Regions from separate parts of the Homo sapiens genome. Here region 1 is linked to region 2. Evidence: fine-mapped expression QTL. Tissue or cell type: sun-exposed skin. Region 2 holds a variant in brackets; the other region holds the start of a gene. All regions are shown on one strand. Distances are between the middles of the regions. Region 1 holds the start of CCDC13-AS1 (CCDC13 antisense RNA 1). Region 2 overlaps CCDC13 (coiled-coil domain containing 13).

Region 1 (15,285 bases), 20 kb before region 2:
AGTGAACTCCCATTCACAACTGCTTCAAAGAGAATAAAATACCTAGGAATCCAACTTAAAAGGGATGTGAAGAACCTCTTCAAGAAGAACTACAAACCACTGCTCAATGAAATAAAAGAGGACACAAACAAATGGAAGAATATTCCATGCTCATGGGTAGGAAGAGTCAATATCATGAAAATGGCCATACTGCCCAAAGTAATTTATAGATTCAGTGCCATCCCCATCAAGCTACCAATGACTTTCTTCACAGAATTGGAAAAAACTACTTTAAAGTTCATATGGAATCAAAAAAGAGCCCACATTGCCAAGACAATCCTAAGCAAAAAGAACAAAGCTGGAGGGATCATAGTACCTGACTTCAAACTATACTACAAGGCTACAGTAACCAAAACAGCATGGTACTGGTACCAAAACAGATATATAGACCAATGGAACAGAACAGAGGCCTCAGAAATAACACCACACATCTACAACCATCTGATCTTTGACAAACCTGACAAAAACAAGAAATGGGGGAAGGATTCCCTATTTAATAAGTGGTGCTGGGAAAACTGGCTAGCCATATGTAGAAAGCTGAAACTGGATCCCTTCCTTACACCTTATACAAAAATTAATTCAAGATGGATTAAAGATTTAAATGTTAGACCTAAGACCATAAAAACCCTAGAAGAAAAGCTAGGAAATACCATTCAGGACATAGGCATGGGCAAGGACTTCATGACTAAAACACCAAAAGCAATGGCAGCAAAAGCCAAAATAGACAAATGGGATCTAATTAAACTAAAGAGCTTCTGCATGGCAAAAGAAACTACCATCAGAGTGAACAGGCAACCTAAAGAATGGGATAAAATTTTTGCAATCTACCCATCTGACAAAGGGCTAATATCCAGAATCTACAAAGAACTCAAACAAATTTACAAGAAAAAAACAACCCCATCAAAAAGTGGGCGAAGGATATGAACAGACGCTTCTCAAAAGAAGACATCTGTGCAGCCAACAGACACTTGAAAAAATGCTCATCATCACTGGCCATCAGAGAAATGCAAATCAAAACCACAATGAGATACCATCTCACACCAGTTAGAAGGGCAATCATTAAAAAGTCAGGAAACAACAGGTGCTGGAGAGGATGTGGAGAAATAGGAATGCTTTTACACTGTTGGTGGGACTGTGAATTAGTTCAACCATTGTGGAAGACAGTGTGGCGATTCCTCAAGGATCTAGAACTAGAAATACCATTTGATCCAGCAATCCCATTACTGGGTATATACCCAAAGGATTATAAATCATGCTACTATAAAGACGCATGCACACGTATGTTTACTGCGGCACTATCCACAATAGCAAAGACTTGGAACCAACCCAAATGTCCATCAGTAATAGACTGGATTAAGAAAATGTGGCACATGTACACCATGGAATAATATGCAGCCATAAAAAAGGATGAGTTCATGTCCTTTGCAGGGATATGGATGAAGCTGGAAACCATCATTCTCAGCAAACTATCACAAGGACAGAAAACCAAACACCGCATGTTCTCACTCATAGGTGGGAATTGAACAATGAGATCACTTGGACACAGGGCGGGGAACATCACACACCAGGGCCTGTCGGTGGGTGGGGGGCTGGGGGAGGGATAGCATTAGGAGAAATACCTAATGTAAATGATGAGTTGATGGGTGCAGCAAACCAACATGGCATATGTATACCTATGTATCAAACCTGCACGTTGTGCACATGTACCCTACAACTTATGTATAAAACAACAACAACAACAAAAACAAAAACTTCCTTGATTAGTAAGGCCATACTGCTTTCCTAACCCTACAGCTTGGACTTTTCTCTGTGGGACCCGAGGCACCAAAGTTTGGTGTCAGATTCCAAGTTGTGCCTGCAGGCCCGGGGCGGGTGATCATGTCTGGCTTGGCTGGGGTGTTTGGGGGGTGCTGGCTCAGGCACCTACCTTAGTTCATGATCACTTTACATGATAGGGTGGTGAGCGGGGCACAGAAGACCAGAAATCTAGGCCTGCCTCTGTCAGTATCTCACTGTGTGACCATAGGCCAGTCGCATCCCCTCTGAGGCTCAGCAGCCAGTTTTAAAAATAAGTCGCAGGGCTGGATGTCCTCTGAGGTCCCTGCATGTCACCATTCTTTGTCATTGAAAGTGGCATGATGAGAGCTGCAAACTAGTCCCAGTCATGCTATTCACCAGCAATATGCCCTTGGACTCTCTGGGCCTCAGTTTCCTCCACTCTGAGGTGAAGACAACAGCCCCCACCTGTTCCAAATCACTGACATTGTCCTTTCTGTTGGCCCTAGGCAGGAAGCCTTTGCCCAGGAGTCTCCTTGAGGGCTTTTCCTTGGGATGAGGCTTCAGTCAGGTGCTAATGGATCCCTGGCAGGGGTCCAGGTACTGCCTCCAAGGGCAGTCTCCCAGCCAAGCAGGATCAGGCTTTTCTTTTAGCTAAATATCTCCCCCACCGGGTGAGGAGTCACCATCTGATCTACTTTCTGTTGTCTGAGAGCCCCTTGGATCTTCTTGGCCCCAAACTCAGAGAAGGAAGTTGAGGACAGGAAAAGAACATGGTCCCCACCTGCCTGATTCAACATCCCCTGATGGCAGGCAAGGAAGGTGTTCCTGCCTCTCGAGGGAACAGGATCCCACTGTTAGGTTCCTGCAGCCTGCTTTGGGGTGAGGGAGGCAGTCTGTTCTTGTCCTCCCCGGCCCAAAGGGCCATGACTGACTCCACCTGCCCTCCTGCCTGGCCCCCCAGGACCAGCTGAAGCAGCTACAGGAGATCCTAGGCAGCCTGAGTCTGCAGGAGGAGAAAACGCGAGTGTCCCAGCACCACCTGGACCAGCAACTGAACAGCGAGGCTCAGCGGAGCAACAGCCTAGTCGCCCAGCTGCAGGCCATGGTAGCTGAGCGGGAGGCCAAAGTGCGACAGCTGGAGATGGAGATCGGACAACTCAATGTGCACGTGAGTAGGGCACTGGCAGCGCCCAAACCCATTTTCAAGCCGGGCAAGTCCATCCAGCTCCTTCCACTTCTTTCCACTTGCCTTAGCTCAGGCCAGACTTCATCCTTCCTGGCTCCACTTTGGCCACCTGCTTCTATCTGGCTCCCCAACCCATTCTGCACACAAACCTGATTGTGTCCTTGCTCTACTTAAAATCTGTTCATGGCTTACTGTCACCCTCGACCTCACCTGGTTCTCAAGGACCCAGGCACCTTCCAGTTTACCCTCTCCCATCCCCAGCTGTGGCCTTATCCTCAGGATTCAAGATGGTGGCAGTAGCTCCAGCAGCAGGATGAGAGAAGGAAAGCCACACTTCATTCAGCTTCTAGGCACCATGTGACTAACTCTTGCTGCCACCCCTCCTGCATCTTCTCTTCACCCCTCCCCTTTCCCTACACTCTGCTACCCAGGCACCATTCAGCTCCTGCTTGCTCCGCACTCCAGGGCTACGCGCAGCGTGAAGCACACTCCCTCCCCTCCTCCCCCACGGCCTCGGTCTGGCCGGCTGCCCCTCAGCCTTTAGGTCTTACCTAGTCAGGAGCTCCTCCAGGAAGCCCCAGGACCCCTGTTCTGTGTTGTGTTCCCCTCCTAGGCACTCTCCTAACTCCCTATGCATCCCCAAACCAAACTTCTCTCACGCTGTGTAGTCATTTTCCTGTTTTCTCCCCTGCACTCTCTGTAAGGGAGCACAGACCGTGGTGCCTCAGTGCCTGGCACTGGAGCAAGCACACAGTAGATGCTCAATAAATGCTTGTCTAAGGCATGAGCTTGTAAAGATATTTTGTCTTGGCAGGTGCCTTGAGGGCACAGCTTGGGGCTGCTAGGAGTCAGGCACCTTCACCTCCCTGGGGTGGTGGTGGGGCTGGGTGGTGTCCTTGGGGAGAATTTCTTGACAGGCATGCAGGTCTCCCAGTGACAAAGGAGCCTTGCAGCCTCTGGCCCACTGGGAAATTGACTGGCTCAGCCAAAGGCATGTTGCAAAGCAGCCCTGCTCTTTGTTTCTGGGGATCCGTGGTTTGTTCAGAGGTGAGAGCCCAAGAGCCCCTCGGCCCTGCCTCAGTCTGGCATTGGCTGACCAGCCTGGTTTGTCCTGTAGCCTCTATTCCCACAGGCCAGGGTAGCCTGGGGCCCCAGGACTGGCTGTGACATAGTGCTGTGAGGCTGAAGGGGAGCCTGGGGGCACAAGGAAGTCTGGGAACAGAGCACATACGGCAGTGAATGGGGACTCACCCTGCTCCCCATCCTGGCTCACTGGGGAGGGAAGTCTGAAGGGGAAGATTCCAGCATCTTCACCTCACCACTGTCCTTTCTCCAGGCACACAGGAGAAGACTGTTCCTACCTCCGAGGTCACCAGCTGAATGGGGGCCAAGCATTACCCACCAGACTTAAGTCGGCACACGTTTCGAGTTTTCTCAAAATGGGTGGGGCTGGGGGACAAGCCAGGTTGTTAGGGGCTTACACCGGTTGTCCACTCTGGTGGCCTGACCTCCTGCTGGGGGTCCTCTAATGTTCCTGTCCAGTCCAGCCCCAGCAGGTATCCAGAAGAGGAAGGGGTTGAGGGAGGGGTGGGGGCCTGGCAGGCTTAGCCTCCACCCAAGGCTGCCTGCCCTCACTGAGTCCCTGCCAGCCTCTCTGGCTGCAGGTGTCTGGAAGGTCCAGGTGTTCCAGCTGAGGAAGGCAGCTGGCCTCAAGTCACACCTGGTGTTCAACCACATGTGGGTGGGGCCGCCTGGAGAAGCGGACCCACTCAGAGACGTCAGTCTCTGACCTGCCCCGCATGCAGGGCCGTGCACCTCCCTCTGGAACCTGAATGTAGAACAGCTTCCTGGCCCAGTCACCGTCCTCACACCATGTAGCTTTCTTTCTGAAGAGAGGCATTATTAGATGTCATTATCATGCAAGTAGTGCCTTCACCAAACAGGCCTCGCTTTTCACTCCTGAAAAGAAGCCTCTTTCATATCCTCTGAAAGCCCCGAAATCAAGCCAAGATCCCCTCCTGCCTTCTCTAGGCCTCTGAGCCAAAGCCCTGAGGATGGAACCCACATCTGTTCCTACAGTATCTTCGGAATAAAGGAGTGGGTGAGGGGTCCAGTGGCCGCGAGGTCAGCCCTGCCTATACCCAGTTCCTGGAGGACCCAGGCCTGACCAAGTCCCCGGCCTCAGCAGGCGATCATGTTGGCAGGCTTGGATCTTCTCGGTAAGAAAACAATGGGAGGGAGGGGTTGGAAAGTGAACATTAATTATTCGGAAGAAAGGTTGTTTCTTGCTACCTCTGATGGGAAGCCACAGGTGCAATTTTAAGATGACTATGCTGTTGTTCTTCCAATACGTGGGCCTCTCCTATGACATTAGCTCTGCGTCTGCAGAAATGAGCCGGTTAGGCCCAGATTTTATCACTTCAAGAGCATGCTGGTTGCAGCTCTCTGTAAGAGCCTTTCTGAGCTGGCCTCAAAAGTTTTCTGCCCCTGGGGCCTTCAAACAGACCCGTGTTGGGTTGTTCAAGGCTCTGGTGTCTCCTGTTCTGTCTCATTTTGAGCAAACAAGAGTTCTGGAAAGAAGGGCAGCAAATCCACAGGACTGCTGCAAGGGTTTCCTGGACCCCTGCTGGCCACTGCTCCACCTCACATGCAGAGGTGAGGCCCAGTAGGGCCTGGTCTGCCTTCCCAGGCTGATGGGCCCCTTCCGCCTTTACACAGCTCTGTGACCAGCCTGGGCCACACACTGGTGGAATCTGCTCTCACGAGGCCTTCCCTGCCCAGTCCCCACAGGACCTCACCTAGGTATGGACCCCCGACCCCCGGACTCTCACAGTTTTTTCCCATTCTTGATTGCTCAACCAGTATTGCCATCCCATTAAAAGGAGGGGAAACTGAGGCCAGGCAAAGTCCAGGGACTCTTCCAAGGTTACATAAAGACAGGGAGGATCAGGGAAGTCCTGTCCAAGATGATAGAGTAAGCAGCTTCAGAACTAGAATCTTGGCCTCTGACTCCCAGGCTAGGGTTCCTACCTGCTACGTGAGAATTAACCTGAGGAACCTTCCTGGGCCTGGCTTCTAGCACCTTCCCTCATCTTCTCTTGCTCATTGAGAATCAGCCTCTAAGGGGAGAATTTCACATGATATGGGTTCCCACTGATATCCCCTCAGACCTTGGGCCCCCTCTTTGTTGACAGAATCAAGCCAGAGGGTGTAAATGGGCCCTTTGTTCCTACTGCCAGCCCATAGACAAAGGACAGCGTTGTCCTGCCTCTAAGCCCTGTCCCGAGCCCTGCCCACTGTCCACTGGAGCCATGCTCCTGCTGTCAACACTCCCCACCCTGACCCCTCAGGCAGGTCAGCTCAGGTTCCAGGCAAAGCCTCCAAGTGGCCCCAGTCCCTCATCTCTGTGGCTCCAGGCAAACTGGTCCTTCTCTGGGCTGCTATCCCCGAAAAGTGGGGGACAGCATGCTGCTGACACTTGGCAGCATAGGGTCTGTGGGCCAAAGCTGCCCCACCCATCAGGCTGGGGTCATAAAGGCACTTGGGGAGAGTGGGCTGACACTGAGCCACAAGGCATGTGCCACGCTCCTTAGGGTGGGAGGTCTTGTCACAGCACAGGGAGATTGGGGAGGCTCTGCCTCTCTGAGGTTTTAGTCACAGTAAAGAGAGCAGGAAGATGGACAAGATGACCCCTTCGAGCCCCTTCCAGGCCTGTGTGGCTGTGACCTCTGTGCCACACAGAAATACAGGAGCTGCTCTGTGCCTTGGCTGCCCAGACTGCTGGTTGTCAGGCTTGTTTCTTCCACAACACACAAATACTTACTAAACTCGACCATGTGTGGGCCCTACCCTCATGGAGCTTACAGTCCCCTCCCACAGGTGACAGGACAGGAATTCACAGGGCAGAGTGATCCCAGAGAGTATGTCTATTCGGGCTGGCATGGTTTGAACCCATTCCCTTCAGGTGACTCTGGTGGGGTGCCTGGGAGGAGGGCAGAGTGAAGAATCGGCCCTTTGCTCCTGCTCCTCCTCTTCCCACATTCTAGAACTGGGGAAATGAATGGGGCTTTCCAAACTGCAGTGCACACACAGAGCCCCTGCTGATCAGCCAGGTCAAGTGTGGGTTCTGATTCAGCAGGTCTGGGGTAAAGCCTGGGATTCTGCATTTCTAACAAGCTGCTAGGAGATGCCAGAGCCACCGATTCAGAGACCACTTGTAGTAGCAAGGCCTTAGAGCATATTTAGGAGTCACAGAGGGGTCTGCAGTTCTCGGAGCCCATCTAAACCACCCCTCTCAATGTTTAGTGGGGGAACTGGGGCCAAGAGAGAGGAAGAGACCTGCCCAAGACCACCGAGAAGTCAGCCCTCAGGATCACATGCCCCAGCCCAGTTTTCAGTACACTGCCCAGCTCTGCAGCCTTCCCTATGCCCTGTACTGCTAGAAAAGTAAGCTCAGGGTCTCACTGGGAAAAGTGGGGGCACAGCGGAGAGCAGCTTGGAACTCACATGTGGGCTCTGGGGGGTTGAAGTTGGGGGGCAGAGTTTACCTTCTGTCCTGGCTCCAGCCAGCAGGTAAGAGGGAAGCAGTGATGGGTTGGCTTAGGGCTGGAGAAAATTGAACAAGTCACAAAGCCAAATGCACAGGCTCCAGGAAAGTGGGCTGGGCTTGGGGACCAAGCCAGAAGATGCAGGAGGGCTGGGAGAGACTGGCAGGGACACAGAGACTGGGCACACCTGACACTGGGTAGGGCAGCCAGGCCCCAAAGGCCACACAGATACCCAGGGCACCCCAGGTCCCCAAGAGCCACCTGCCACAGCACCAGACTAATTCCAGGCCCCCACAGGGCTTGGATGGACAGAGGTACCAGTGTAACTCTAGTTCTGGTAGGTTCAGCTTTGGAGCCTAGGGACTTCAGCAGGACCAGGAATGGTGGGCAAAGAAGCCAGCAGGGGAGGACCTAGAGGGACTGGGTTTGCTTCCTTTGCTCTGGCTGACATTCGCCCTGAATGTCCTTCTAGTCCCTCCAACCATCACAGGGGTAAGTGTTATTTCTAGGCCTCGGATGACCTCTGCCCTCTGCCCTCCACCCTGGTCCCAGGTTCTCGGACTCCCCAGAACAAAAAGGCTGGCAGGCACAAGTGTCAGAGATCAAGGCCCTCTGGCAGGCTGCCGAGGTGGAGCGTGACCGGCTCACCGAGTTTGTCACTGTCCTGCAGAAACGGTAACACATGGCACCCAGGGATCTCTCCCATAGGCCTGCATGTGGTGGGGACTGGGGCCAGGCCTCATTTATGACTGGGTCCTCCTCACCTGAGAGCTCGGCTCCCAGTGTTGGTCCAGGGCATTCCTAGCCACAACTCATGCGCCCCACAACCTTGGGGCCTTGTCGTCACACTGTGTTTTGCCCTTAGGAACAGCCCCATTCTACATGCACCCAATGGGACTGTTGTATGGCATGTGGACATTGCTGGGAGTCTCGGGGGAGAGACACCCAGAAGTAAATCAGTCAAATCAATCCATCAATAATTAAAATCTGTGATGAGCCTGGCACTGTGCTTGGTGCTGCTGGAGGGTTTGGTGGGAAGAAAACACAAGCTAGACTGACATCTGGAATTGGAAAGAACAAGAGAGGTGCTGATAGCTGGGGAGGCAGGGAGGGAAGCACGAGGCCTGAGGCACTGGACCAGGAGGTATGGTTTTCTCTAAAGGGTTGTTGACAGACTTCCGTTCAGATAAATCAGTGCTCCTCGCTCAAATGATCCTTTTGGCAAGAATTGCAGGTGTCCAGGCCAACACATGGCTCAACCATGTGACCTCCACACTGAAAAATATTAAGCACACCACTGAGTTTCTGCCCTAACAGGCTATATCATGTATCAGTCAAGGCTCTTTGATGACAGACAATAGAAAGCAATTCTGGCTGAATTCAGTGAAAGGCAGATTTTTGGAAGGTACTGGCAGACTCCAATGCAGAGAGCAGGAGAGGAGCCTGAGAAGGTGCAGGCATCTTTGGTAGCAGGAAACCCTAGGCAGTTCCCTGGGCCACTGAAATGGCATGGCCAAATGGCTTTTAGCTCTTGTGCCCATGGGTTCTGGGAGAGAAGGTTGAACTGGCCAGTGCTGCGCCCGTATCCACCCCACATGTGAGGGCACTCTGACTGAAGTTCCTCCGGGTGCTCACAGAATGCAGGAAAGGTAGTTTGCCAAAGGGAAAATGGGGGTACTGATAGCAAAAGAAGGAGCTAGGGGTGCAGGGAAGGACAAAACAAAGGATGCCTGCTACCTAAATAGTGAGTGGTCAGCTTTGCTTTCACATAGTACATAGAGATGATGTGAATTTCAGACATACTCAAGTATATGAGAAAAGCAACATTGATTCTTTTTCTATAATTGGAATGTAATGGATAGTACAAGTCTTTAGTCTATCAAGTAGTAGAAACATACTCAATGCAGGCTTTCTCTCTCATTTCTCTTGAGTTACATCCGAGTTTGGGGGTGTGTGAAAAAGGTGACTCAGTTAGCTATTGCTGCATAACAAACCATCCCAAACCTAGTGGCTTCAAACACAATGGTTTGTGCTTTCTCACGATTCTGTGGCTTGGCTGGGTAATTCTACCCCACATAATGTCAGCTGGGGTCACTCACTGGTCTCATGCAGCTGGCACTTCAGCAGGGATGCCTCAGTTCTCCTTCATGTGGCTTCTGTCTCCATGTGAGATCTCATTTTCAGGGCCTCTCCACACAGGGCTAGGATTGGGTGAGGCAAGCAGGGCACCTGGGGTATGAAATGTAAAGAGGTGCTCACACCCAGTCACATACATGCAACTCTCTGTCTGCGAATATGCTGGCCCTTTTTGGGTCCTTGGGTTCCTCCTGCTACTCTGTGTCATCCTGGGGTGTTGGGGCTCTGTGAGGCTGTGCCAGGCCCATCAACCAACACCTGTTGCCTTTTTTCCTTGAGGTTATTGCTAAGTCCCTGGGCTGTAACAAGAAAAGGGAACCCAGGTACCTTCTGCACTCAAATTCCCTCAAATCTATTTGGTTTAAAACTAAATGTTTTAAACTAAAACCATTTTGTTATAACTAAATTGGCCAATCATCAAAAATGATGATTCCTTTCAAAACTGATGATTGGCCAATTAAACCAAAGGAACTATTTTAAAGTAAAACTAAACGTTTTAACTAATGTTTTAACTATCCCAAAGTACAGGACCTTCGTTTCTCAGAGATCCTCAATATCTACTCCTTTCTTTATCTGCAGAGTCTGTCCCAGCCTTGCACAGGGGAGGGTGGGGGGGAGTCTTTCTCTGCCTAGCTTCCCTTCTCCTCTACTCTGCCCTACAATTTCCAGCTGCCTCAGTTGCCCTCCCCCACCCAGTTCCCTAATCCTGTGTGCTCATCCCAGCATCCCAGGGTGCTCTGCGTGGCTGCCCCCACCCCACCCTGCAGTGGAAAGTGCCTCAGGCAGAAAGCCAAGGCCAAGGGCGAGCCAAGCTCAAGTCCTTCCTTTCCTCAAGTCTTGTATCCAGTGTGTGTCGTCCTGTTGTCCATTGTCTGAAAACAAGTTCTTTCTTACATTTTATCAATTTTTCTAGTTACTTACAATAGGAGTTGGTTAGTCCACCATGACAAAAGTCACTAAATATGTCTCTTTTTTAAAAAGCACGTAGTCGGCTTTGTTCTTAAATTTAATCTGGGAATTTCTGTGTTTGAACAGTATCGTTTAATCCACTTTGATTTTGGTAATATTTAATCACTTTAATTAATATTTTCTATTTGCCATGATTTTTCTTTGTTCCTTTTTTTCTCCTTTCTTCCCTTATATTGGACTGATCAAGTTTTATTTCTCTTACTTCTTTGCAAGTTTGGAAGTTAGATATTCTATCTCTGTTCTTTTAGTGGTCACCCTTAACTTTTAACATCAAACTCAGCAATCTAAAGTTAGTTGGTTTTGCTACTATCACTTTAAGCAAAAGAATACATTTAGAATGTTTTAACTTTGATTTCTCCGTTTGTGCCTTTCATGTTACTGTTTCCTAATATTTCTCTTCCACATTCTTTTTTTAAACCCTGAAATTAAACCCTCCAAAGTAAGTCTTGAATACTGAATAGTGAATATTCGTTTCCTTTTGCCAACATGTTTGAAAATGTCTTCACTCACTGTTACTTCTTGTATCTCAATCTTCCTTCTAGGTTCACTTTCCTTCTTACTGAGATGCCCTTTAGTTCAGTGAGGCCATGTAAATAGTAAACTCTCTGAGTATTTGTTTATTTTTATTTTATTTATTTATTTATTTATTTTTCTTTTCTTTTTTTGAGACCGAGTCTCTCTCTGTCACCCAGGCTGGCGTGCAGTGGCATGATCTCAGCTTACTGCAACCTCCGCCTCCCAGGTTCAAGTGGTTCTAGTGCCTCAGCCTCCCGAGTAGCTGGGACTACAGGTGTGAGCCACTACGCCCAGCTAATTTTTGTATTTTTAGTAGAGATGGGGTTTCACCATGTTGGCCAGGCTGATTTCGAACTCCTGACCTCAGGTGATCTGCCTGCCTCAGCCTCCCAAAGTGCTGGGAGTAAGGGCATGAGCCACCACGCCTGGCCTGTTTATTTTTAAATGTCTTTATTTTGCCTGTCTTGAATGAGAATTTAAGAGAAATTTGGGCATAGAATTCTAAATAGATGGGTATTTTTTTCTCAGCACTTTCAGGCTATCCTATTGTTTTTTATCATCTACTATTGCTAAAAAGAAATCTGCTATCAGTTTTATTGTCATTCCTTAATAGATTTGTCCTTTCTCTCCGATGCTTCTTCAGATTATTCTCTTTGTCTTTGAAGCTTTGAAATTTCACTGTGATACGTATATACATATACGTATACACACACACATATGTATATATGTAATATGCCCATATATGTATATATGTATATATGTGTGACTTTACATATATGTAAATATATATTTTATATATACATGTAAATATGTGTGTATATTTGTATGTATGTATATGTAAAGTATACATATGTAAATATATGTAAATATGTTATACGTAATTTTATCTACTCAGAAGTTAGTGTTCTTTTTCAATCCAAGGACTTTATATATTCCCAAGGACTGCTGTCCATATATTGCCTCTTCCTCACTCTCCCTATTCTTTTAATCTAAAATTCCTAGTCCATATATGTTAGACTTATTCTTTCCTCCACATCTCTTTACCCTTACTATTTTGGGCTGAATTCTGGGTGATTTCTTCAAATCAGCTTTCTAGATCACTAAATATCTTCAGTTGTGCTTCATCTACCATGAAACCTATTTTGATAACTGTATTTTTCGGTAAAAGCTCCTGTTCTCAGCCAGGCACAGTGGCTCATGCCTGTAATCCCAGCACTTTGGGAGGCCGAGGTGGGTGAATCACCTGAGGTCAGGAATTCAAGACCACCCTGGCCAACGTGGTGAAACCCCATCTCTACTAAGAATCCAAAAATTAGCCAGGTGTGGTGGCAGGCACCTGTAATCCCAGCAACTTGGGAGGCTGAAGCAGAATTGCTTGAACCTGGGAGGCGGAGGTTGCAGTGAGCCAAGATCACGCCACTCCACTCCAGCCTGGGCAAAAAGAGCAAAACACCCCCGTCTCAAAAACAAAACAACAACAACAAAACCCTCTTGTTCTCTTTCTTATAGCATTTGTTCTTTCATTACAATTTTTGCCTTTCTCCTTTAAATAATTTTGAACTTATTCCCTTTAGAGTTTTCTACCATCTTCATTAATTAGGATCCTAAGTAATGTCTGTCGGCTCTCCCCTTGTAGTAAATTATTTCCTTGTGTGGTTTCAATTTTTGTGATTTTATGAGCTTATCTTCAGTGGGGCTTTTTTCCTTGTAGGAGTTCTTAGGTGATGACCGTGTTTCTGTGGAGGTGTTCTGCATTTGTCTCTGTGAAGCTTTTAGGGTTTCAGTGGTCTCTGATTGGTACTTTATGTGAATTTATTGGCTTAGATTCCCTGAACACATGAATGCTGCCCTTGTGTTTCAGTTTCACATGATTGGTGCTTCCTCCCCTCCTCCCCATTTCCCAAGGCCCTGATAGACTGCAGGCTTCCTTACTACTTTCCTGAACTTGTAGATGGATATTATCTTAGTCCTCTTTTTTTTTTTTTTTGAGACAGGGTCTCACTCTGTCACCCAGGCTGGAGTGCAGTGGTGTGATCACAGCTCACTGCAGCCTCAACTTCCCGGGCTCCAGTGATCCTCCCACCTCAGCCTCTGGAGTAGCTGGGACCACAGGCACATGCCAACATGCCTGGCTAATTTTTATATTTTTATAGACTTACATTAAATGCATCTTTACATTTTTATGGGAGTATATCTGTATCACAAATTCCTAAAAAAGAAATGGCTGAATCAAAGAATATGCACATTTAAAATGTTCACAAATCATGACAAATTGCCTTTTAAAATGAATCAATTTACATTCTTACCAATAATGTGAACTGTTTTCCCCATACCCTCACAGTTACTATGTTTTATTAATCTTTAACATTTTTGCCAAACTAACAAGGAAATGCTAATATCTCCTTGTTTTTATCTGCTTTGCTATGACCAAAAGTGAGGATAAGTATATTTTCCACATAACTTTTATGTTTTTTTCTTTTAACTACCTATTCATGCCATTGCACATGTTTTAGAGTTGTTTATATTTTTATTTGACTTATAAAAGAACACTTTATGTATCATATATATGGTATTATGTATATAATGTGTAATATTATGTATGTTTGTCTTCATGAAGATTTTGTGTCATTATGCTAAATTCATTCTTAGCATTCTTAGGTAGGGGGAAACCTCCTTATCTGAGTATTTTTTACCAGCACCCCCACAGTTACAGTCCCCATGAAAGCAAAATTTTTAATATTAAAACAGTCATCATTTGACTATTTAATATTCTTCACTTCACATTGGCATTGGGTCACTTTGGTCAGACTCTTGAAATACAATGAAAATCAATTATGAAGCAAAAAGGTAAATCTTTCAAAATATTTGGAATTTCATGAGATTGATGAACATGAGTTTGGAGAACTATTAGAATCGCAATCAAATACATTGACAAATTAGGATCTAGCTGAGTTAGGCCTGTTAACAACTGAAGAAAATCAGTGAGACCAGAGATTGGTCAAAAGAGAATAATCAGAATACCAAAGTGTGCAAGAGGTCTTGAAGCTTACGGACATCTGTAGATCCCAGGCAGGAGGAGCAGCCTCAGGTCTGGAGAGGGGGCGAGGACAGAGAAAGAGCTGGTTTTGGTGCATATTTGCAGGAAAAGTTGTAGAGCCTGCTGATAGATTGGAAGCTGAAGATGAGGAAGAAAGAGAAGGCAAGGGTGACCCCCGGGTATCTGGGCTGAGCAACTGCATGAGTGAGGATAATATTTATTGAGATGTGGAAGGCACGTTATAGGGGAGAAGGAGAGAAATCAAGAGTTTGCTTATTCCTAAAATTTTGTGGGAATTCACAATGTGGTTTGCTATTTTATATGATGTTTTGCTGTTGGTTTATTATTTCCCCTATTATAAATGGAGTTAAACAAAATGCATACATTATTGAAATTCATAACAGAAAAGTGAAAGCCCCTCCCCCACAGTTGAGTCAATAGCTGCCACATATTCCTTTTTGTTTTCAGTCAAGTGGCTGAATTATATTAACCTTATATTTATTTGTTTTTAAATTTTTAATTTGTTGTAAATTTTTTAATTAGATCATATAGTATGCATAATCTTCTGCTACTTATTTTACTTAGTATATTGCATTTTCATGTCAGTACGTTTTCCTTTTATGGTTACAGAATATTTTATTGTATAAATCCACTGTTATTTATTTACCATTCTTCTATTGATGGGTTATTAGTTTCTGATTTTAAAATACTTTATTGTGTTGTTTCCTTCTATTCTCATTTTACTTTGAGTTTTTAAAGTCAGGAATAGCTACTGATTTTACCAGTGCTTCTTCAGTATCTATTGGAAGGATTACCTGATTTTTTCCTTTAACCTAATTCCGATGTTGAATCTTACAGCTCTAGTGTTCTTGGAACTATGTTGTGTTACTCTCTTACAATGCCATTGAATTTAATGTTCTTTCTTTTTTCCTCTATTTTTACTGTGGTAGGCAGAATTCTAACATTCCCACCCCCGATATACATGCCTTATAAACTTCTCTTCCCTTGAGCGTGGGCAGAACCTGTGAATATGGTAGGATATTATTGCCACAATTATGTTAACTTACATGGCCAAG
Region 2 (15,285 bases):
GCCTCTGACCCACTTTGTCTTAGGAGAGATGCTAACTCCCCTAAGTTGGGCCTCTAACCCAATCCCATCCTTTACCTGGGTTTATGTACCCCACTTACCCAAAGTCATCCAATCAGTGCTGAAGTCTATTTCCTTTGGGTTGGGGGGTTCTCCTCAGTATCATCCCTTCTGTGGTTCACCAGAAAGATGTTACTGGATCCCACCACTTACCCAAAGTTAGCCTTTGGGTCAGGGGTTTCCTCACTATAGTCGCTTCCGTGGTCACCAGAAAGATGTTACAGGACCCCAACACTTATGCAAAGTTAACCTTTGAGTTGGGGGTTTCCTCACTTTAGTCCCTTCAGTGGCCACCAGAAAGATGTTACAGGAAAGGGTCCCGATCCAGACCCCAAGAGAGGGTTCTTGGATCTCATGCAAGAAAGAATTCAGGGCGAGTCCACAGCACAAAGCAAAAGCAAGTTTATTAAGAAAGTAAAGGAATAAAAGAATGGCTACTCCACAGACACAGCAGTCCCCAGGGCTGCTGGTTGCCCGTTTTTATGGTTATTTCTTGATGATGTGCTAAACAAGGGGTGGGTTATTTATGCCTCCCCTTTCTAGGCCATATAGGGTAACTTCCTGGCATTGCCGTGGCATCTGTAAACTGTCATGGCGCTGGTGGGAGTGTAGCAGTGAGGACATCCAGAGGTCACTTTCATCATCATCTTGGTTTTGGTGGGTTTGGACCACCTTTTTTACTGTAACCTGTTCTATCAGCAGGGTCTTTATGACCCTGTATCTTGTGCTGACCTCCTATCTCATCCTGTGACTTAGAATGCCTTAACCATCTGGGAATGCAGCAGTTGGTTTCAGCCTTATTTCACCCAGCTCCTATTTAAGATGGAGTTGCTCTTGTTCAAACGCCTCTGACAAAACCACTGTGCTTTGGAGAGAACAACATGGCGGTGGATGGTTGTGGTATTATGCAATAACAACACAAAATGGACGAAGACACATCGTTAGACCCAGCTGGGTAACATACCTGAACTCCAGAATAGGGAGAAAAATCTAGGAGCTGACAACCAACCAAGTCATTAGCCAGCAAGAAAATGGAGACCACAGTCCTAGAACTACAGGGGACTAACTTCTGCTAACAACCTGAGTGAGCTTGGAAAAGGATCCCATGCATCAGATGAGATAGCAACTCCTTCTGACACCTTGACTTCAGCCATGTAAGACACTGACAAATTAGCTAGGCCAACCTTGGACTTCTAACCTACAGAAACTGTGAAATAATAAATTTGTGTGGTATATGTATGTTTTAATTGTGGTAAGCTATATACACCAAACATTTGTCATTTTAACCATTAAAAGTATACAATTCAGTGGCACTGATTACATTAACAATACTGTGCAACCGTTATCTCTATTTCCAAACTTTTTCATAACCACAAACAGAAACTCTATTACTATTAAGCAATAGCTCCTCATACGCCACCCACTAAGCCCAGCATCTAGTAACCTCTTTACTTATTTTTTTTTTTTTTGAGATGGATTCTCGCTTGTTGCCGAGTCTTGAGTGCAATGGCATGATCTCGGCTCACTGCAACCTCTGCCTCCCGGATTCAAGCAATTCTTCTGTCTCAGCCTCCCAAATAGTTGGGACTACAAGCACCCACCACCATGCCCAGCTAATTTTTGTATTTTTAGTAGAGATGGGGTTTCGCCATGTTGGCCAGGCTGGTCTTGAACTCCTGACCTCTGGTGATCCACCCGCTTCAGCCTCCCAAAGTGTCGGGATTACATGCATGAGCCACCATGCCCAGCCAGTAACCTCTTTTCTATGAATTTGCCTATTCTAGATATTTTGTATAAGTGGAGTCATGCAATATTTACCCTTTCGTGTCTGGCTTATTTTACTTGGCACAGTGTTTCCAAGGTTCATCCGTATGGTAGCATATGTCAGAACTTCATTCCTTTTTATGACTGAATAATATTTTATTGTGTGCATGTACCACATTTTGTCAATCTATTCATCTGTTGATGGACACTTGGATTGTTTCCACCTTTTTGGCTATTGTGAATAATGCTACAAGAACATTGCTGTACAAGTACCTGTTTGAGTCCCCGTTTTCAATTTGAGAAGTGGAATTGTTTGATCATAGGGTAATTTTATGGTTAGCTTTTTAAGGAGCCACCAAACTTTTCCACAATGGCTGCACCACTTTATAGTCCCACCAGCAGTGTACAAGGGTTCTAATTTTTCTATATCCTCACCAACACTTATTTTCCTTTTTTTCAATAATAGCCATCCTAGTAGGTTTGAAGTGATATCTCTTTGTGGTTTGGATTTGCATTTCCCTAATGGCTAATGATGTTGAGCATCTATTTATGTGCTTATTGGACATTTGTATATTTTCTTTGGAGAAACACAAGTCTTTTGCCTACTTTTTAATTGGGTTGTTTGTCCTGTTGTTGAGTTGTAGTAGCTCTTTATGTTTTTTGGAAATTTTTTATTGTTTCAAGCCACTATTTGTGGTAACTTGTTATGCAGCAGTACTAATACATTTACCCTATTATTAACTGGGAAATCAAGTTTTTTGTAAACTTATAGGAAGCCATCTATTTCTTCTATATTGTGGAATTGTCAGAATAGCAAAAATCATTGGTTCCTTGGAGGTTAGATAGAACTTTCTTGAGAACCTGGCTTGACCTGATTTTTTTTTTTTTGGAGGTAGATCTTTGACAACCTTTTTTCAAATTTAGATTTTCTGTGTCTTCTTGAAGTAATATTAGTACATCTTGTTTACTTACAGAATTAAACATAATAATGCTTATGCAGTGCCTTAACACAGTAGTTGGTATGTGGAAAGCACTCAAAAAAAGTATTAGCTGTGCTGTTGTTATAAGATTTTTCTCCTTGTCCTGGAGTTCAGGTATGTTACCCAGCTGGGTCCAAGGATGTGTCTTAGTCCATTTTGTGTTGCTATAACAGAATACCACAGACTGAGTAATTTATAAAGAAAAGAAATTTATTTCTCACAGCTCTGGTGGCTGGGAAGTCCAATATCAAGGTGCCAGCGTCTGACAAGGGCCTTCTTGCCGCATCCCGTGGTGGAAGGCAGAAGGGAAATGGCATGGGGAAAGTTGAAGTGGGGACAAAGTTATCCTTTATCAGAAACCCACTCTCATGATAACTAACACACTCCACTACTGACCAGTGGAACTTTCTGTGATGATGGAGTTGTTCAGTATCTGCACTGACCAATACAGTTTAAGAACTTGAAATGTCACTAGTGTGACTGAGGAAATGAATTTTTAATTTAATTTTCATAAACTTTATTTTTTTTTCTTTTTGTTACAACAGAGCCTCGCTCTGTTGCCCAGGCCAGAGTGCAGTGGTGCGATCTCGGCTCACTGCAACCTCTGCCTCCCAGGCTCAAGTGGTCCTCCTACCTCAGCCTTCCAAGTAACTGGGACTACAAGCACACGCCACCGTGCCAGGCTTATTTTTGTATTTTTTGTTGTAGATATGGGGTTTTACCATGTTGTCTAGACTGGTCTTGAACTCCTGGACTCAAGTGATCCACCCACCTATGCCTCCCAAAGCACAGGCGTGAGCCATCGTGCGTGGCCTGAAATTTAATTTTTTTTTTTTTTTTGAGACAGAGTTTCGCTCCTGTTGCCCAGGCTGGAGTACAATGGCACAATCTCAGCTCACTGTAACCTCCACCTCCCTGGTTCAAGTGATTCTCCTGCCTCAGCCTCCCAAATAGCCGGGATTACAGGAGCATGCCACCACACCTAGCTAATTTTTTTTTTTTTTTTTGTATTTTTAGTAGAGACGAGGTTTCACCATGTTGGCCAGGCTGGTCTGGTCTCAGACTTCTGACCTCAGGTGATCCACCCACCTCGGCCACCCAAAGTGCTGGGATTACAGGTGTGGGACCCCGGGCCCAGCCCCTGAACTTTAATTTTAATGGCTACATGTGGACATGAACCTCGCAGTCACTGTGTTGGGCAGCACAGCTCTATCATATTCTATCACGTTCTATAGTATGAATATGTTACCACTTACTTGTTTGTCCCCTGATGATGGGCCTTTAGGTTGTTTTGGGTTTTTGCTTTTGCAAATAAAATCTCAAGGAATATGCTTAAATATGTGTTAGTAGCTGTTTACTGTGTTACTATACAGCTTTTTATTAGTAGTTGTATACTGTTCAAAATTGTTGTCATTCTGTTCCTTTTGACCCTTCACCAAGGTGGAAAGATCACTTCCTCCAACACTGTCAGTTTCAAGGCTGCCCCTCTAATTTTCAGGTGTGCATGTAACTCTTGGCTTGGGTTAGATCTCAGGGAGTTCTGGCTTTCTCACTAAATGAACCTTTAGTATCATAGAAGTCTGAAATGGCACACCTAGCCACAGGAAGGACCTAAGCTCAAGCTCCAGTGGGATTAAACAAGTGCTTCATGTGAAATAACATTTATGACAGGCATGTAGAAAACAAAACAATAAGCTTAAGATAATCACTAACTCCAAGAAAAGCGAACAATTAAATGAGAAAGGACATATGACACTGTGCGTCATGGCTCTAACTAATTGTCCTAACGTAGACAGGCTTTTGGTGTCTATGCCCTTTGCTCCCTGCTGTTATGCCTGTGAGTGCTTTATGTTACATGAAAAAGAGATTTTGCAGATATGATTATTGTTATGGACCCTAAAATGGAAAGATTATCCTGGATTATCTGGTGGGCTCAATGTAATCTTTTGAGCCCTTAAAAGCAGAGAAATATCTCCGTCTGGGATTATTCAGAGAGTTGCTGTGGAGGAAGTCAGAGAGGGTAGTGAGATTCAAAGTGTGTTAAGGGTATCTAGCTGGCTTTAAAGATGGAGGGGGCAAGGTGGCTCCTAGAAGGTGAAATTGACCAGCAGCCTGCAGGGAACAGGGACCTCAGTCCTTCAACTACCTGGAACTGGATTCTGTCAACACTCTGAATGGGCCTGAAAGTGGATTTTCCCCCGGAACCTCCAGATAAGAGCCCAGGTCAGCCAACCCCTTGATTTCGGCTTGTGAAACCAGAAGCAGAGAAACCCACTGAGCTTGCCAGGCCTCTGACTTACAGAACTGTGAGATAATAGATTTGTGTTGTTTTAAGCTGCTAAATTTATGGTAATTTGTTATAGCTGTGATAGAAAACTGATACCTAATATCAATTCATCCAAAAACGTATACAGGTGATTCTGTTTCGTAGGAGGAGAGTACTAAAATAAAACTAAATTCTTATTTTGCATGACAGGAAGTCAAAAGATTATATTTAAACCTTATATAAACCTAAAAATAGCAACATAAGCATCTGTAGAAATATGGCAGTAAATATTAAAAGAAACAGCTAGAAGTGTTATAAGTGATTGCTTTTAGAGAGCAGGAATTGGGAATGATGGGGCTGGGAGTGGGCTGATAATTTTTAAATTTTAACCTTGGAGAGAACCATATGGTGTTTAAATGCATGTTCCTGTGTTACTGCAATGAAAATGAAGAGGTCCCATCACTACCAATGTAAGATGTGCCCATCTCTCTAAGGGCCTGAGCAAGTGGGGTAGGGCCTGCCCCTGCCTGCCAGGGCATGTAGCATCCCCTCCTCTCTAATCACCAGGGTGGAGGAGAGCAACAGCAAGCTCCTGGAGTCAGAGAGGAAGCTGCAGGAGGAGCGACACCGCACCGTGGTGCTGGAGCAACATCTGGAGAAGATACGCCTGGAGCCAGGGAAGGCATCAGCCTCCCAGAGAGCAGCTCCCAGGACCAAAACAGGTAGGGGCCAGGGCAGTAGTCTCAGTGCAGGGGGTGGAGGCAGTGTTGCTGCTAACAGAGGAGCCAGGCAGCTGCACTGTTCAGCCCATCAGTGAGCATGTGGGAAGCAGAGCTTCCATCAGGGTGGAGCTCTGCCTGCCTCCACTGTGGGGTGTTCTTTTCCCCAGGCCTCTCAGTCAGAAGCAGGAGCCCCAGAGCTCCATTGCCTCGTGTGGCCCTGGCCTGGCCACCTGTAAGCCCTCAGCATGAGGTGGCAGTGCTGAATGCCCCCAGCCACCCTAGCCCTCAACCCTCTATCCTAAGCTGACTTCATTCAAAGTGGTCATGGGGCACAGCTGGTCTGCTGGGGAAGCCCAAGCAACAGTGGCTGAAGCAGGGGAGGAGTCCCTTTGTGCCTCCTGCAATGGTCAAGTTGATATAAGCAGGAAGTAGCCTCACCAGAGGTTTGGGGACCCAAGCTCCCTCTGTTTTGTGGCTCCACTGTTCTCAACATGCAGCTTCCATCTTCTGGTCTACAATGACTGCCTGAGCTTTCCCATCAGCAGCAGGAAGGGGAGAAGGGAAGGAGACAAACTTCTCCTTACCTTTTACGGTTGCATATGTCACTTCTGCTCTCATCCCATCAGCCAGACAGTTGGGCATAGCCAGGTGCAGAGGGAAGCTGGGAAATGCTATCCTTAACTGAAAAGTCTATCGCTCGAACACAGTGGTTCTCAAGGTGCAGTATTCAGATGAGCAGCATCAGCATCCTGTGGGGCTGGGGCGAGCTGGAGGATGCCAGAGCCAGAAGCCATTTCTGGGATGGCTGACTCCCAGGGAGGAAGGGTCTCCAATGTGGAGGGGCTGGGCCTGCCTCTGTCTGACCTCCCATCCCACCCATCCCAGCCCCCTCCAGGCTGGAATGCTGGAGGTGCTGCTGCCCCCACTGCACCCTCTTTCAACACCCCAGTAGCCCCCCAACCCCTCCCCAGCCAAGGATGGTCAGACCCTTGGTCTCAGTCCTCAGCCCAGATGAGGTCAGAACGTTTCAGAAGGGTGTGCCAGAAGTAGGGCATAAAGAGGGTGTTGGGGCCACTTGCTTTCTCTTCTCCCACCAGCAGGGCCAGGAGCTTCTGAGAATCCAGGCCGGGAAGGAAGGGTCTCTGGGGCTTAGCCTTGCTGACCCTCTTGGACTCTCAGGAATATGTTCCCTAGGAGTGTGGCTTCTCCAGGCTGGGGCTTACCTCCTGTAGGGCAGCAGGACTTCCAACCAGGGAGAGCTAAGCCACAGCAGGCAAGTCACTTTGTTCCCTGCTGGACAGTGAGGGCAGCTGCCTGAGGGAAAGTGTCCAGGTGGCCTCTGCTGCCTACTGGCTTTTAACATGGGCAAAATCCTGCCCCTCTGGTGAGCAGAGCACCACTTACCCGCCTCCCCCTGGCCCATCCGTAAAATGAGGAGGCTAGATTTATAATTCAGTCCCCCATGGCAGTCTCACTCCAGTAGGGGAGCTAGACATCTGAGCAGAGATGGAGGAACTGGGAGGGGATGTGGCCTGCCGATCCCTGAGGGAAAGACAAGTGTCGGTGCTTGGAAGCTTAGCTGGATGCTTGGAGGAACAGGGAGGAGGCAGGGAGGCTGGAGTGGTCCAATCACACAGGGCCTTGAGAGCCAAATAGAATTCACTGAGGCTGCCAAAGCTCTAGAGGCATAAACTATTATCC[T/CT]TTTTTTCAGCTAAGGAAACCAGCTCAGAGAGGCTGATAGTTTGCCTGAGGCCTCTCAGCAGAGGGCGAAAGCCAGGTCTTCTGATACCAAGTAATTTACTGTGGGTCACACCACCTCTGAGGGCCTTTTCAGTCCCGAGGTTTTCTGATGCTGTGATTTTGCCCAAGTTCGCCACCACCAGTTGAGCTTTGTCTTTTTTTTTTTTTTTTTTTTGGAGACAGAGTCTCACTCTGTCCCTCAGGCTGGAATGCAGCGGTGCGATCTCAGCTCACTGCAACCTCCACCTCCCTGGTTCAAGCAATTCCCCTGCCTCAGCCTCCCAAGTAGCTAGGATTACAGGGGTTCGCCACCACACCCTGCTAATTTATGTATTTTTAGTAATGATGGTGTTTTACCATGTTGGCCGGGCTGGTCTTGAACTCCTGACCTCAAATTATCCACCCCCCTAGACCTCCCAAAGTGCTGGGATTATAGGCATGAGCCACCGCACCCGGCTGAGGCTCTTTTTGATTCCCTGTGTCACAGGGCTTAGAAAATTCCATCAGGCTGAACAAGCAGTTTCCCATCCAGGGCAGCTCTAGTTGGGGATGTGGAGGTGCTCAATGCGTGGAATAAGCCAAGGGCAGCTTAGCAGTGTCCCCTGGAGCCAGGAAAGGCCCTGAAGAACACTCAGTCCAGCCCCTGTAGAGGGCAGAGCCACTCTGCTGCCTCCCCAGCAATGAGACAGGTTTACACAAGACTAGTCTTGAGGTGCATGCCTCCATGCCTGGCTAATTTTTATGTATTTTTAGTAGAGACAGGGTTTCACCGTGTTGGCCAGACTGGTCTTGAACTCCTGACCTCAAGCAATCTGCCCCCACTTGGCCTCCCAAAGTTCTGGGACCACCCCACCGTGGGCCACTTTGTCTCCTTTTTGTGAACATTCTGTACCCTTCAACTCCAGGACCCTGGATCCCCTGCTTCCTAGTATGAAGCTGATGGCCTGGATGGGGACCACTGGTATGAGGGCATCAGGTACAGTGACAGTCTAGACTCGGGCTCAGCCTGCAGGCCAGACCTCAGGCTCAGCTGGTTTCTCTTTTTGAAAACAAATTACCAGGCTGGGCATGGTGGTTTACGCCTGTAATCCTGGCACTTTGGGAGGCCTAGCCAACATGATAAAACCCTGTCTCTGCAAAAAATACAATAATTAGCTGGGCATGGTGACAGGCACCTGTTGTCCCAGCTACTCGGGAGGCACAAGAATCGCTTGAACCCTGGAGGCGCAGATTGCTGTGAGCTGAGATCACGCTACTGCACTCCAGTCTGGGTGACAGAGCAAGACTCTGTCTCAAAAAAAAAAAAAAGAAAAAAAAAAGAAAACAAATTACCAGAAACTTGTAAAGTATAAAGATGGAGACAGGGTGGTGAGGAACCACCCTGGTACAAAGCGAGCAGAGTCAGGGCTGTAGCAGAGGCCAAAGCCAGGGGCAGAGGCATGCAGAGGAGGCATCAGGGAGGGCTTCGGAGGGAGGCAGAGCTCAGAGTTGCCCTGCACCCCGAAGGCGGTGTAGCGTTTCACCATGTGGAAGAGCAGGCAGTGGGCAATGGCGGGAGGAGAAGCAGGGTGCTAGCACAGGGCTGTGGCCTCCTCACAGAAAGTGGTTGCTGCTGCCCCACAGGTCTGCCCACCTCTAACAACAGGCACAACCCAACCGGGAGCGAGAAGAAGGACCCATCCTTTGCCCAGCTCTCCGATGTGCCCGTGGAATCCCAAATGGAAGAGCTGACAACCAGGTGCTCCCCTGCCCCGCCTTCCTGAAAGGGTAGGGTTGTCTGAGCAGAGGTGCCTCCATGGGCAGAGGGACTGTGTCCCTCCCCTTGCACTTTTGACTCATTTGCCCAGAAGGCTTGTCCTGTTTGGTCCTGGGTTCTAGGCCTGCAATTCAGGGACTGGCCTTCAGAGGACAGAGGGCCCGGCCCAAACCCCAATGACCCATAGTCCAAGAGAAATTTTATCAAGCATGGATCACTGAACCAGTTTCTCACTACGTTAAACCTTTTAAGACCCCACGCAGCCATGGGAAGGGAAAGACGGGAACCTCTACAAATTGGAACTCAATTTGTAAGGGGCCTTGAGGTAGCTTACATTGCAGGGAGCCAGGCCCATAGAGAGGAATCCATGGTACCCACAAGAGTCAGTGAGAGGAGGGGATGGGTCAGAGGGAAGCCTGAGCCTGAAGAGCAGCCATGCTGGCAACCACATTCCCAGGGCCCTCTGTCACCCACGCACACCTGTGTGCAGCTCCAGCCACACTGAGCACTGTCTCCTGTGGTCCAGGCTGGCCATCCAGGTGGAGGAGAATGAAATGCTAAAGGCTGCCCTGGGCAGTGCCCTGCGGGGAAAGGAGGAGGACTTCCGGATGTACCATGAGATCCTGGGCCAGGTGAAAAGTGTCTTCCTGCAGGCCCTGCGGCAGCAGAAGACAGGCAAGCAATAGGATGACAGCCCAGTGTCGGCCTGGCCGGGTGGGCAGCCTCAGGTCTTGAGAGGATAAGACTCTGTCTGAGGACTCCATCTGCTCCGGGAAGCCAGCCCAGGGCAGCCAGCTCAACCACTTCTACCAGAAGAGGCTCCTTAAGGATGACCAAAACCAATGTCTCAGGCCAGGAAGGCAGAAGAGAAGCCCTGGTGGGACACTGCAGGAGACCCTGGGCTGGCTGGGTTACAGCAGCAGGGAGGCCCAGCAGCCCACTGGCAGAGGCGAGAGCTCTGGGATGGCAAGGCGGCTGTGAATGGACAGATGCAGTCCCTCGGGCAGGTGTTCATCGCCCTCATCCTAGGTACTAGCCCTGGATGTCCCCATGGCTTCACACACAGAAGAGCCCTTGGTTACCCTAAGTGGGCATATCCCCCATGCCACTCAGCCCTGCCCTATCCCCTCACCCCCATCCCGGCTCCATCTGTAGCCGTCCACACCCTACACAGACTTGGGGCACTATGCTCTCAACCAGTTTGTCAGCCCACTCCTCAGGACACTTCCTCAGGTGCAGACCCTTGGACTTGTAATAATAATAAGTATTTTCATAATCACTGCAGCTCCCAGTGAGTGAGCATCTACTGTGGCAACCTGACCCCATTCAGTCCTCTAATGACCCAGGGGTTTGTTGTCTTATTTGACAGATGAAGAAACTGAGGTTCACAGAAAGAAGCTGAGCTAATATTTAACTGCAGTCTGCCTGACCCCAAAACCAGGGTCTTGCCGTTCAGAGATTACCCAGGGTAGGCGCACCCACCCACCACTGAACAACCCCACCCCTAGGCAGCAGCTCCAAGAGGCATCTTTGTTTGCTCACCAAGACTGCTGATGGATGCTGGTGGCAGAGGGCCGAGGTGGGGCTCAGCTGGAGCTTCAGGCAGAAGGGTTTTGAGGTAGTGGCTCCAGTCAAAGGTACAGTGCACCTCCCTCGCCATGGTGAACTTGGAGGGATGCTGCAGGGGCACCCTAAGATCCGCAGGCCTCTATGACTGTCAGTGTTGCCCTTTCTCAGCTGTAACTATGCACTTATAGCTACAGGAAGGAGTGGCCCCAAGGAGGGTCACTCATAGCCACACACCCCAACTCCGACACCCTGGCCACACAGGTGCACCCACAGCCCCACACAAAGATGCAGATGCACACACATACCTCAATTCAGGAGCATGCAACTGTACGTGCACACAGGCACCTCCATGTGTGCACACTCATGGACACACAGGTGCAGATGAGCACACACATGTGGATGTGGACACACATTCCCACACGTGAAGACATAGCCACTTGTGTGTTGCTTGTGCAGTGATGCACAAATGCAGGTGCACATACTGTGAAAACACCCCCTTCCCCAGGAAAAGCCACTGGGGCTCCTGCGAGCATCTTGTCAGCTCCTTCCTTGGAAAAGCCACTGCGGCTCCTGGGACCCTGTCTTCTCAGCCCCTTCCTTGGGGATGGGGCTATGGAGGGACCCTAGCTGGCCCCCACTCCTCAGGGAGCCCCTGACCCTGCATGGGGTCACACGGATCTAGAGATCCCACAGCAAGTTAGAGCAAAGGCCACCGGGATGAACTGATGATTCTGGTGGGGTCCTAAGGGTCTCTGGGAAGGAAGAGTTTTTCTCTGGTTCCTTGTGAAGGAAAACGGCCAGGCAGAGAGCCAGGAGAGAGAGGGTCTGTGCTTGGAGGGGACAGTGTGTGACAGCGAGGGGTGGGCTGGATGTAGAGTCTGAACACAGAGGAGTCAGCACCTTCTCCTGCAGGCCCTGAGGAGCTCCAGAGGGTGATCTGAGTATGAGGGGTACAGGCTCTGGCCTCAGTGCAGTCCCAGGGAGTGAGAAGCAGGCATAGGATCAGCCATCCTTCCTCAAGATCACCTCAGGGAAGTGCAGAGATGGTGTGACCCACACTCCAGCCACTTCAGGGTGGTTCTGCTGCCCTTCCTGGGCTATGCCTGAGAAAGGAAGGAGCATTAGGTCATGGAGTCTGGACAGGTGGGGCTGCCTGGGGCATACTTCTCTCCCCACTTACCAGCTGTGTGGCCTTGGGCAAGTTATTTAACCTCTCTGATCCTCCACATTCTCATCTATAAAATGCAGACAATAATAGAATCCTCCCTCAGGGGGCTGTTATTAATATGTATGTCAAAGAATAACCCAAAGACGTTTCACTAATTATTAGCTCTCTGTTTATTTCTGTACAAGGAACATGTATCTATAGACTGATTTCAACAAGAGTTATATAAGAGAGAGGGGAAAGAAAAACTGCAGACAGGCAGGCACAGGAAATCTTGTTTGCACATTTTTGGGTAAACTGATTTGCTGGTGTCTTGCTTTGGCCAACTCTGTATATAAAGATGAGTGTTTCAGCTTTCAGATTCCACGGGCAACCTTGACAGCATTGCTGTGGTGCCATGTGCGGGAGTGCCTGTCATGTCTGCTGGCACCTACCACCGGGCACCTCCCCACCCCTAGCTTGGTTAGATCAGGTCTGCTCCATTCCCTCATTGGAACCCTCTGCAGGGTTCACTGAGATAAAGTGTCCATTGCTTACAGCAGCTGCTCGCACACAGTAAGCGCTTAATAATTATTCGCTCTTAGTGTTCCCTCCATTTGTTCAACCAGAACTTGTTGAGCAGTTCCTCTGCCCCAGGCACAGAGGTGCCGAGGTGAGGCAAACACAGTCCCTGGCCTCCAGGAACTCTCAGATCAGCTGAGGAGAGAGACAGACTGGTCACAGGTCACCATTCCATCCAGCCAGTCGGCCACCAGGCAGTCAGTGAGTGCCAACAGCATGCCAGCCTCTCCAGGCCTGGGAGGGACCTAGAGGTGAATCTGACTTGCTTCCTCCTTTCAGGGAGTTTCCAGTCCAATCAGAGGTGTGGGAAACGCCATGATGGAGCTGGGTGGGGAAGGATGCAGGACCGGGCTGCAGCACCACAGGGCTTCCCCCACCATCCCCACCCCATCCCTGTGGCAGTTCCCAAGTTCCCAACCTCCTTGATCAGATCTGGGTAGAGAGGGGGCTTCACATCTCCCTGAGGCAAAGGAGCAAGGAGGAGTAAAGGGAAGGTGGGGAGAGCCTGGGAGAAGGATTTTCAAGGGAAGGAGGTCATCAAAGGGGTCAAAGATAGGGACCCTGAGAAACCTAACTTAGGTGGGCCAGGTGCACAGCCAGGCAGCTGGTCTGTCCAGGTTAGTACCAGTGCCTCTCCTGGGTAGCACCATCTGTCCTGGGCACCCTGAGGATGACCTCCCTGTCCCTCAGGCAGGTGGGCAACAGGTGTGCTGGATAAGACACCAAGGGCCCTGGCCAGATCCACGAGGAGGTAGTTGGAGGGGAGGGTGCAGGTGCCCTGGCGGGTTGAGGGGCAGGGGCAAGTAAAGAGTTAAGTGGTGAAGTTGCCTCAAGTGAGGGCTCTCCCTGCCACACCCCAGGCAGGTGCTGCAGGTCTTGGTGCTCAGGTTCCAGCACTGACAGGTGAGACCTGGCTGAGCTGTGGACGTAGTTTGGCCACTGTCCCCACAGGGGCCTCTGGGGCACCACAGCTGAGCTGGGCAAGGTTGCAGCCTGGCTCAGGCTTAAACACACTACATTGTCACTGGGCCCCTCCCCTGCTCCCAGGAGCCCAGGGCAGGGTGACCTCCAGTGGGTGTGCTCCTCTGCACCCCCACACCCAGGGGCCAGAACAAGCTTCTCCTCCCCACCCCCAGCCAGCCCACAGCCAGCCCTGAGCACAAAGAAGTCGGCCTGCCCACCTTCTCCCCACAGGTGTGCCTTTACGTACACTGACTCTCCTATATCTGTGAGCCTTGCACACACACAACACACATATACACACGTATGTACGATACATGTGCACACACAATACACAGGATACACATACACAGCAAACACATGCCATGAACAACCTACAACACAAAACGTACACACAGACCCACACACAACTGATACAAAACACAGTTGCACACGTACATGCAAACACACAGGATACTTTCCTCGCATTTTTACTTTGAGCAACAACCAAACAAAAAAAGTCTGAAAATTGAAAAGGGACTCAGATTTGAGAGAATTGTCCCCACTCCCCACCATATCTTTCCTAGTGGCCCTTGTGGCATTTGGGAAGCTGGCCCCAGGGCCAAGTGCTGGTCTTAGCTCAGTCAGCTTCCTGTCCCTCACGTGGGCTGGCCTTGCCAGGTGCCCTCCCCTGCCACCCCCCTCAGACACAGTGGAGCTGGCCTCAGGCTGTCCAACCACAGATCCATGGGACTTCCCTAGCCCTCCACCCCTCTTGCCATTTCCGCACACCACACTCCCTGCAGACCCTGCTGTGTGTGGGTCACCCAGGGAAGGCCTCACTTCTGAGTGTGAATCCAGCCTTTCTGGGCCTCTGGGGGTCAGGGTGTCTGTGGCTCTCTAATAGCCTCTGTTTATGAGCAAGGCTCTTGTCATGGAGTGAATCACCGGATGCCCCCTGCCACCCCAGTGAGGGCCAGGGCCAGCGGTATGCCCATTTTACAACTGAGGATCTGAGGCCCTAAGAAGTGGGTCACACCAGCTCAGGGTCAAGTAAATTGGCTGAACCTGTGTTCTTAACTCTGGGGTCAAACCACCCTGTCTGCTCCCTTGAGCCATTTTCTTGGAGCCTCGTGAGGGCCCCAGTGTGGGTGCACGGGGTTGTCGCCCCTGCAGGGCAGTCAGTGCCAGGAGCTTACAGGGCTGATCCAACTACTTGGCTTCCTCATGTGCCAGGTCCTTCTTCTCCCAACTGCGTACAGTGGCAACATCTTCCCTATGGGCTGTGGTGACATTAAAAAGTTAATCCATGTACATCCTGGCTACTATGATTAACTTACTCCTAACAACCTTTGACTACCCCTCCCTGAGGAAGCCCTCCTTAACCCTGAAGTCTGGCTCAGGTATCCTTCCCTTCCTGATGCTGGCCTCTCTAGTGCCCATTACCCACCACAGCTCTAACCCAGCACCCACACTGTGCAGTAGTCACCATTCATGCTTCTCAGGGTCGGGGACCACAGACACGGGCCTCTGTGTCCTGTGTGGAGTGTGTAGGTTGGGCGTCTCCTTGCTGTTCTCCAGGCCAGCGTGTCTATGTGCTCGGGAGGCAGCTCCCTGCCTAAGTGCAGTCTCTCCCCTTCCTGGGCCCTGATGGGTGGGGAGCAGCACCTCCCTCCTGCCTCCTCAACTGAGCCTGAAGCTGGGGTCATAGGATCAGCAGGGGCTCCAGGAGCTGTCCTGTGACTGATCACAGCCACAAAGCTCCT

What was found. PIP is the estimated chance that this variant, and not a neighbour inherited with it, causes the effect. A credible set is the group of variants that fine-mapping cannot tell apart.
Region 1: CCDC13-AS1 starts here. The variant in region 2 is the best candidate, but not a certain one, in a credible set for the expression of CCDC13-AS1 in sun-exposed skin (GTEx, PIP 0.81).

The regions. Positions count from the first base shown.
Region 1 is chr3:42,723,408-42,738,692 of GRCh38, reverse strand. CCDC13-AS1 (CCDC13 antisense RNA 1) reads right to left here and starts at 6,118. Exons shown (of 4, transcript NR_046732.1): 1 at 6,035-6,118. CCDC13 (coiled-coil domain containing 13) reads left to right here. Exons shown (of 16, transcript NM_144719.4): 10 at 2,780-2,986; 11 at 5,084-5,223; 12 at 5,723-5,806; 13 at 8,104-8,226. RefSeq lists enhancers at 2,145-2,830, 4,203-4,886, 4,887-5,572, 6,102-6,396, 7,749-8,248 and a silencer at 6,102-6,396.
Region 2 is chr3:42,703,666-42,718,950 of GRCh38, reverse strand. CCDC13 (coiled-coil domain containing 13) reads left to right here. Exons shown (of 16, transcript NM_144719.4): 14 at 5,635-5,789; 15 at 9,153-9,267; 16 at 9,812-13,195. The coding sequence ends at 9,971. It overlaps HHATL-AS1 (HHATL antisense RNA 1), which reads right to left. Exons shown (of 3, transcript NR_146957.1): 2 at 14,719-14,802; 3 at 12,186-12,904. Among named protein-coding and RNA genes, the nearest start is that of HHATL, 8.5 kb to the right of the region's middle. The variant T/CT (reference allele first, on the strand shown) is at 7,491.